2 linked regions of the Homo sapiens genome follow. The protein of the gene in region 1 purifies or fractionates together with the protein of each later gene. This does not show direct contact. Each region holds a gene or a part of one and is shown on either strand. Other genes may lie near its edges.

Region 1 (4,424 bases):
AGAAGATGTGCTCGATATTCTTTTTCAGGGACAGTTGCCGTTTGCTGTTGTGGGAAGTATGGATGAGGTAAAAGTCGGAAACAAGATGGTCAAAGCTCGCCAGTACCCTTGGGGTGTTGTACAAGGTAAATGAGACAAAGGATGACTAGAAATATGTATCTATCTAGTAATCTCAAAGCTACCTGTCATGCCTTCTTTGGGGTGATGCTTAGTTTGGATGTGATTGGTTGTCAGAGGAATTGGCTGTGTACTATTTTAGCCAAAGTCTGGAGGCCGTGTAGAGCCTCCCACTTCTCATTATGCCACACACACATTACCCCCGCCCCCACGGTACCCTGTTAGTAGGTGGGAAACACCAGTGGGGCACTCTGACCAAAATGTGAATGTGGAAAGTAGTGTTCAGACATAAAACATCACTAATTACCACTTAAGTATAAGAACAGTCAACCATCTTATAAATTTATATATTTTTACTGATCAAAGTATTGCCGGCTATTTCCAGAATAAGCCAGTCAGCCAACTTAAAAAGTTAAATCTACTTGACATTTAGATTATTTAGCTGACATTATAATGAGTAAGTAAATAGTATTATATGGTTCATTTACTTATAGTGCTAATTAATGGTGAATAGATTACCCTTACTAGTATGGATTTCCAAATGCTGATTTTTTTTCTTAATTGATAAATTTTGTAATGAATGAAAAAATTGAGAAAATATAACATTTTTAATTTTATAAAAAATGTAAAAGTAATAATTATACTTAAGAGTATTGGTCACAATAAAATATATTTATTTGTAGTCCTCTGGTCACCGTAAACATAGAAGAAGGATCATGTAAGTGTGTTCACTAATTTTGAATAGTGTCTAACACAGGATCATAAATGTGTTCTATAAAAAGAATTTGATAATTATAGCAGGGAAGGATAGTATTCTTGAGTTTGCAGAATTTACTACTTTGAAGTTTTAGTGAACTAATATTACATACTCTTTAAACATTATGTGAAATGTCTTCAGGATAGTTTGTAAACTGCTAACAAAATATTAGTGTGAAATAACTAGAACACTTGGTTAACAATAAGTTGTGTCTTTTTTGGTATTTCCTGGTGATTCATTGGCTACTAAATTTAAAGTAAATCTGGTCTGTTAATTCACATTGCCTATGATACAGTATTTATACTGCAAGAGTTTCTTCCTTGGTTACATGTATAAAATAATCGTAGCTGTTAATCAAACTGATCATTTGCTATTTGTTGTTTCACATGTTTTCATTTATTTGTTCATTCAGCAAACACTTAGTTGTGTGCCAGGAATTAAAATCCAGTGTTGTTCTTTTCTTATTTTTTTTTGGCTAGTGGAAAATGAAAACCACTGTGACTTTGTAAAGCTGCGGGAAATGCTCATTTGTACAAATATGGAGGACCTGCGAGAGCAGACCCATACCAGGCACTATGAGCTTTACAGGCGCTGCAAACTGGAGGAAATGGGCTTTACAGATGTGGGCCCAGAAAACAAGCCAGTCAGGTAGGGTGGGGTTCTTGGGAAGCCAACCAAAGAGGAAGTTAGAGAGGATTGCATATTTTTATATATCCAGGATGATGGGGCATGTGTTCTTTAGAATCTCCCAAAACCATGATATAGAATCATTTGGTAATGACTAATTATTGTGCTTCTTGAATCACTTGACTCCTTCTTGCTTTTGAAGAGTCTTGCTTTTTAAGTCCTTGTCTGACTCAAAAAGAGTTAAATATGATGAAGAATGTATGGCAGAGGCCCCCTGTTTCAGTTCATGCTGACATGAGTAACTGAAGGAAAATACCCTCATTATTTGATTTCTTTTTGTATTTATCTGAGACGATGATATATTTAACTGTTGTCATAAAGGTAAGTTGGAACACAAATCATTTTCTTAGTTTTATTTATTTATTTTTTGTAGAGACAGGGTCTTACTATGTTGCCCAGGCTGGTCTCAAACTCCTGGCCTCAAGTGATCCTCCTACCTCAGCCTCGCAAAGCTTTGGGATTACAAATGTGAGCCTCCATACCAGTCCTCAGGAATCATTTAAAATAAACTAAAACATTTTCTGTTGGTTTTTCTTCTGTAAAGGTTTTGGAATGAGTGAAGCTTAGCAAAACATATTATAAAGGAAGAAGGAGAGTGCTTGTAGGGAGTTGGAGATTAGATTGTTTCTTGCCATATTACAGTGTAGTTATAAGAATTTTAGAATCTGAACCCTTCCTTGCTCAGTAATATAAAGCATTAAAAGTTGTAGAAACTTCCTTGGTAATTTTATATGGTGCTGTATCCCAGACTTTATGCAACTCAAATCCTTAGTGTACTGAATCAGATCAATTTGATGTAGCATTCCAGAACAGTGTTTGCATGCAGGAAAGCGTGAGATCCTTGGGACAAGTGCTATTTTAAACTCTCTTATGAGACTGAGGATTCCTTTTCCATTGCATTGTTTGCATTTGTTATTTCTCTGGTTCTTAGCACCTGCACCAGAGTAAACAAAAGAAAGGGGGAGGAGTGCATCAAATTAGTGCCGCTGTTGCATATAAGCTTTTGGAAGACTTAATCTTAGATGAAGTTAAATTTTTAAATTTCTTCAGTCTATGGAGTTAATTAATGTTTTCACTTCTGGTAGCATAATGAATTAAGAATTGTATATACTTATGGCCGGGTGTGGTGGTTCATGGCCTGTAATCCCAGCACTTTGGGAGGCCAAGGCGGGCAGACCACTTGAGGTTAGGAGTTCAAGACCAGCCTGGCCAACATGGTGAAACCCCGTCTTTACTAAAATTACACAAATTAGCTGGGTATGGTGGCACACTTCTGTAAAACCAGCTACTCAGGAGGCTGAGGTAGGAGAATCACTTGAACCTGGGAGGCAGAGTTTACAGTGAGCTGAGATCGTGCCACTGCACTCCAACCTGGGCAACAGAGCGAGACTCCATCTCAAAGAAAAAAAAAAAAAGCATTGTGTGTACTTAACCCACCCTCACCAAATTCAGGCATAGGATGCTTCTGGTTGTGGGCCAGTCATTCTCGTAAACTGACAATTTTCTCATGATATTGTCTTCACTAAAGATTAATCATCTCGAGTTAGCTTCCCTAGTGTTTCTCAGAGGAGACTCACTTCTCATTTCTTCCAAGTCTCAGGGTCACTTCAGAGGCCTCTGTGCACTGAGGTGGAAGGGGTCCTGAGTAAGAGCGGGCAGGGACAACTTTGAAGTCCTCTCTGAGGAGACAGGCCTAGGTGTCTGGTGGAGTCATCATCAGTCACCTGTGGATGATTAAGAAATGCAGGGTCAGAATTTCCAGGGATGAAGCCTAGAAATCTGCAGTCAGAATTCTTAGTCATTCAGCAAATAGTTTGTCTGCTATCTGCTCAGCCAAATGCTAGTCATTGGGTGTATGTGCACTGTTGGATCAAATAGAGACCCTGCTTGTGTAGAGTCTCTGTTGAGGGGTGGGAGGAGGACCCCTATGTGAAGAAGAGAGTTGGGGGAGGGGGGCAGGTGGAAGTGGGGAGACCAAGTTAGGAGGTTGCCATGGTGGTCCAGGCATGAGAAGATGGAGGCGTGAAAGAGAGGGGTAGTGACAGAGGGGTGAGAAGCATGCTTAAGACATGTATTTTTTTAAATTTAATTTTATTATTATTATTATTATTTTTGAGATAGAGTCTCACTGTGTTGCCCAGGCTGGAGTTCAGTGGCATGATCTCTGCTCACTGCAACCTCTGCCTCCTGGGTTCAAGCGATTCTCATGCCTCAGCCTCCTGAGTAGCTGGGACTATAGGCATGCACCACCACCCCCAGCTAATTTTTGTGTTTTTGTAGTAGAGACAGGGTTTCACCATGTTGGCCAGGCTGGTCTTGAATTCCTGGCCTTGGGGTCAGGAATTCCTGGCCTTGAATTCCTGGGGTCTTGAAACCCCATCTCTACTAAAAATACAAAGTGATCTGCCTGCCTTGGGCTCCTGAAGTGATGGGATTACAGTGATGGATCACACCTGGCTAAGGATATGTAATTTGAAATTAAAGTCCATAGGACCCACTGATAAATTATTTTTGCATATGGGATTTGAAGGAAAGAGAGGGATCAAGGATAACTCAGTCACCACTTTGACCTAGAAAATGGGGTGACTGGTGGTGATCGTTATTGACCTGAGGAGGATGGGAATCAGAGAGTTTAGGGGTGTAGTTGGTAATCCAGAGGTTTTAGAAATGTTACATTTAAGCTGCTTATTAAATATTCAGGTGAAGAGTTTGAGTAGGTTATTAGACACATGATGAATCTGGAGCTAGGGAGAAGTTAGGGCTGCCATAGTAATTTGGGAGTCAGCAGTGAATAATACTGGGTAAAATCTTAAGTATTTTTTTAAAAGGCTCTGCTAAATGCTAGAGATTACTATTATTTTGC
Region 2 (4,446 bases), on another chromosome or scaffold:
CAGGATGGCCACCCCACCCCGCCTTCTGATGACTGATGGACACTAATGGTTTCCATGAGCGACTTGCCAAACAAATAAGAGACACATCAGTAGGTAGAGCCCCGGGGCCACACTTTGCCTCAGTGACCACTTTTTGGGGAACAAGGACTGAAACTTCTGGGCTGACGAAGCAGCTCTCCAGCCTTGCTCTCCACTCGGACAGTCATGCGGGGATTCCATGGCCACCTCAGCGCTTCCGGGAATGGTCATGGAAGCTTCTGGAAGTCAGGAGGCAGCCACTGTGACTTCCCCTTGCCCACGTGGCACGCTTGGAATGTGGTGAGTGCCACTGAGTATGGAGAGAGTCAGGCAAGCTCATCTGTGGGCCCTGTGCCAAGGGCCCCCAGCAGGGGCCTGTCAGGTCGCAGCCCAGAATGCCGGGCCCTGTTCTTACCAGAGAAGAAGGCCATGGTGTGGGCCCAAGGGCCATGACAAACAGAGGGGCCGCAGGGAGCGAGAAGCCCTCCCCCAGTTACAAAACCACGTCCTGGGGGGCCACTTCTGCTTTTGGTTCCTCATTTGACTAAGAAGAGTTTCGTTAGCAGAAAACCTTTTCAAGGCGTCTTTGGAAGTCACATTGGATAACTCCTGATGCCTGCGCCAAGTGGAATCTTCCTTTGGGGCATTTTCTAGAAGGATCCCTCCTTCCTTCTCTGCAAAAGGGAACCGTCCCCCCGAAAGGGCCTGGGCCTTTGGGAAAAGGGGTTTAGAAAGCCAGGCGCGGGGACCCTTCTTTGGGGGCGGTGGCCGCATCCCAGGATCCCTTCCTAGGGGAGGCCTGGGCCCAGATGTGAGGCTGGGGGCCTCTCCCCAGGGCTCAGGGCCCCAGGAATGCAGGGCCAAGGGGGCCCATGAGCCTGCGGCCCCCCACCCCGAAGCCAGGAACCCCGGCAAATGAGTCCAGCCGGACAGTCCCGCGCTCAGGGCGGCGGCCGGCGGCGGGGTCAGGCTGGGGTCTGCCCGGCGACCTCGCGCCTGGCCCGCGAGTTCAGGTGCCCCGGAGCCAGGGAGGGAGCGGGGCGCGGAGCCGGGCGGGGAGGGCAGGGGTCACCGGGCGGGGCAGGAGCAGCGATGGGACAGCCCCGCCCCGGGGGAGTGTCCCGGCCTGGCCGCCGCAGCCTTAAGGGCCGGGCGGGGCAGGGGCCCAAAGTGCGGGGTCGGCCGGGTGCTGGGCCGAGGCCGAGGCCGGGGCGGGATCCAGAGCGGGAGCCGGCGCGGGATCTGGGACTCGGAGCGGGATCCGGAGCGGGACCCAGGAGCCGGCGCGGGGCCATGGCGAGGCGCGGGCCAGGGTGGCGGCCGCTTCTGCTGCTCGTGCTGCTGGCGGGCGCGGCGCAGGGCGGCCTCTACTTCCGCCGGGGACAGACCTGCTACCGGCCTCTGCGGGGGGACGGGCTGGCTCCGCTGGGGCGCAGGTGGGCACCGGCGGGGAGGCAGCCCTGGGGGGACGGGAGGCCCATCGCCCGGGCCAGGCGCGCGCTCTGCCTCCTGGGGGCCCTGCGTCGCCAACAGGCCTTGGAAGGTCAGATCCAGCCGCTTCGTTTTGGGGGTCGCTCCTTCTCTTCCACATCCAGGGTGAGCCCTGATGTTTGTGGGGTTGGACAAGCCCCACCTGGCCAGAAAGCCAGGCCAGCCCCACCTCCTCGGCCTCTGGGGGTGGCCCTTACGGCGCGGCATGGCTGGGGGAGCAACCCGGTTCCCTCCTTTCGGGGGTGCCCTGCCTCCTTCACATTCTGAGAGCGCTGGAGCCTCCTAGTGTGAGGTGGGCCCACACCTGGCTCACCTCTGGTGATTGTGGCCCCACTCCCATGCCCTCAGGTGTTGGGAAAGGCGGGAGGGCCCTACCGAGGGCTTCCTGGGCCCACGGCCCCCGGGAGCCCCAGCACCGATCTGGGTGGGGATGATCTCTTCTCAGCACATACCCCCGGCCTCATGAGTACCTGTCCCCAGCGGATCTGCCCAAGAGCTGGGACTGGCGCAATGTGGATGGTGTCAACTATGCCAGCATCACCCGGAACCAGCACATCCCCCAATACTGCGGCTCCTGCTGGGCCCACGCCAGCACCAGCGCTATGGCGGGTGAGTGGCCGCCCTTTGACTGTGGGCCAGGAAAGCCCATCCCGGCTGCCTGTTTATAGGCCCAGGCAGCTCAGCCCGCGGTTCCAGGGGCCTGTGATTCAAGGCCAGGTCAGCCTGGGCTGGGGTGCTAAGGCCGAGGAGCGCGGGCCTTTGCCCTCTGCTGAGGTGACCCAAGCTGGGTCATTCTGGGGCTTTTGGGTGACAGGCAGGACTAGGACTGAATCCCAGTGACAAGTGGCTGCCAGGTGCCCTCTCTCCCCCAAAGCTTGTGACCTCAGCCATTGGGATAGAAACAGAAATGCAAAATCACTGAGTCCCCAGGCTGTATTTGAGGATACAGAAGTAAACTGCTTCTCAGCACAGATGAAAGCCTGTCCTGGGCTTGGAATATTGGGTGAGGCTAGTTGGCTACAGCCCATGGCCTAACCTGGTCACTACCTCCAGCCTGGTGGGTTTCTATCTTAGGCTTTTGGCAGGAGTAGGGTAGGGAGGCTCTTAGCAAAGAGGAAGGGGAAACTAAGGCCCTCCCTATCAACGAGGCTGCTGCACCCTGCTTTGGGAGAGAAGGCGGGAGAAGGGACAGCTGCAAACCAGCCCCAGGCCCACCCCACAGCATTTGGAAGGGACTCTGCTATCCCCTCTCCAGTCACAGCACAGGGTCCAGGAGCCTGGATTTCCCCTGGAGATGGGACTTGCGTGGCCTGGGAGTTTGGCCCATGAGCACTGTGGTGCTGTTGCCTCTTCCCTGGCCTTGGTCCTCATGGGTCAGGCCTGCTGTACACCCATGTGAAAAGGATAGACTACAGTGTGGCTGCCGCTGTGGGCCAAGGCTGGGGGACATGCGTTTGCGTGTGCTCCATCTCACTGACGCCTCCTCAATGCCATGATTGCTTCCAGTTTGCAGATGAGGAAGCAGGCTTTTTGCAGAGAGATGGGGAGGCTTGAGCATAGTGTGAGTGACAGCTGAGATTTGAGCCCGGAAGCCTGGGCTTTGTGCCAGGATGTCTGATGGGCTCAGTCTTGTGAATGAGGGGTTCTTGCTCTGGGGGTAGGGTCTGGACCCCAGAGCCAGCCAGCTGAAGCTGTGGCATCCGTGGCGTCTCCCCCGGGGGCTGGAACACACTTCTGATCGTTCAAAGGTCCCTTTGATGTGGATGGAGCTGGAAGGTCTGGGAGACCTTGGGCGGGCTGCAGGGTGTGGGTGGGGCTAGAGGCAGAGGACTGGGCAGAGTCTAGGGGAAGTGTCCAGGCCTGGCACCCGCTGAGGAAGTGAAAGAGCCTTTGAGGGTGGGGTGAGGGTGAGGGGAGAATAGAAAGGTCAACAGGTGCCTGTGGGAAGCCTTGAACTCTTTGAGAGGGAGTCAGGTGACAAGATGTGCGTCTGTGAAGGACTGCGGGTAGAAAGGAGATGGCTTTCAGATGGATGTGGGACCCTGGCCAGGGGTCAGCCCTGCCGCATTTCCCCAGGGGACTCTCTCTGGGCGGATGACTGCTTCACCCCACTTTCTCCTGAAACCTCCTTCTCAGCGCACCCAGGCCCAGGCACTCGCTTCCTCTTTCACTGAGGAATAGAAGCCACCAGAAGGGGACTTCCACGGGGCCCTGGCCATTTGCCAGCCAAGGCAGCAGGTCCTCCATTTGTCTTCCCTCCTCTCCCCCAGGATCAACTGTCTTGTCCCCTCACTGAGCCCGTCCCTTCCCACTCAGGGAAGCTCTCCCACCTGGAAAAAAGGAACACAAAGCCCCCGGCCCCACCCCGCCCCAATTCTGGGCTCCCTAGGGAAGTATCTGGAGTCCCTCCACTTCCTCTTCTCTACCCTTGAACCCACTCCAGCCTCAGTCCCACCTCTGCCACTCCACCGGCACTGTTCTTTCCACTGCCACCTGGGGCCCACCGTGAAGCATTCTCCTGATCACGTCTCCCCAGGATGCTTCCTTCTCCTGCACCATACTGCCCGCCTCCACCTCCCTGGCCACTCCTTCCCCTCTCCCCAGCTGTCTGCTCCTCAGAGTTCTGAGTGTCAGCTTCCCCAGGACCAACCCTTCACCTGAACTCAGCTTGACATCCACCTGCCCACTCGCCCGCTGTCCCGGTCACCTGACACCTCCAGCCTCAGACCTTCAGGTCTGGATGGCTCCTTCCACTACTGTCACCTGACAGCCCATTTCTTCCCCAGTCCTCCCTGGCTGTCCTTCCGGCTATGCAGGCAAAAGCCTGGACTGGTACCCGACTCCTCTGTTTTCTGTCCCTCATATAATCCACCCACAAGTCTTGTCGGTTCTACCTTCGAAGCAGATGCAGAAATCACGCACCGCCCACCGCCTCCT

Evidence for each region.
Region 2: the proteins of SEPTIN10 (region 1) and CTSZ fractionate together in Homo sapiens (co-fractionation; one large-scale study listed by BioGRID). This does not show direct contact.

Annotation. Positions count from the first base shown.
Region 1 is NC_000002.12:109,561,464-109,565,887, reverse strand, and holds part of SEPTIN10 (septin-10), read left to right. Parts: intron 1-28; coding exon 29-125; intron 126-1,353; coding exon 1,354-1,522; intron 1,523-4,424. UniProt on the Homo sapiens protein: Filament-forming cytoskeletal GTPase. May play a role in cytokinesis.
Region 2 is NC_000020.11:59,003,994-59,008,439, reverse strand, and holds the start of CTSZ (cathepsin Z preproprotein), read left to right. Parts: upstream 1-1,185; 5' UTR 1,186-1,311; coding exon 1,312-1,454; intron 1,455-1,954; coding exon 1,955-2,118; intron 2,119-4,446. UniProt on the Homo sapiens protein: Exhibits carboxy-monopeptidase as well as carboxy-dipeptidase activity. Capable of producing kinin potentiating peptides.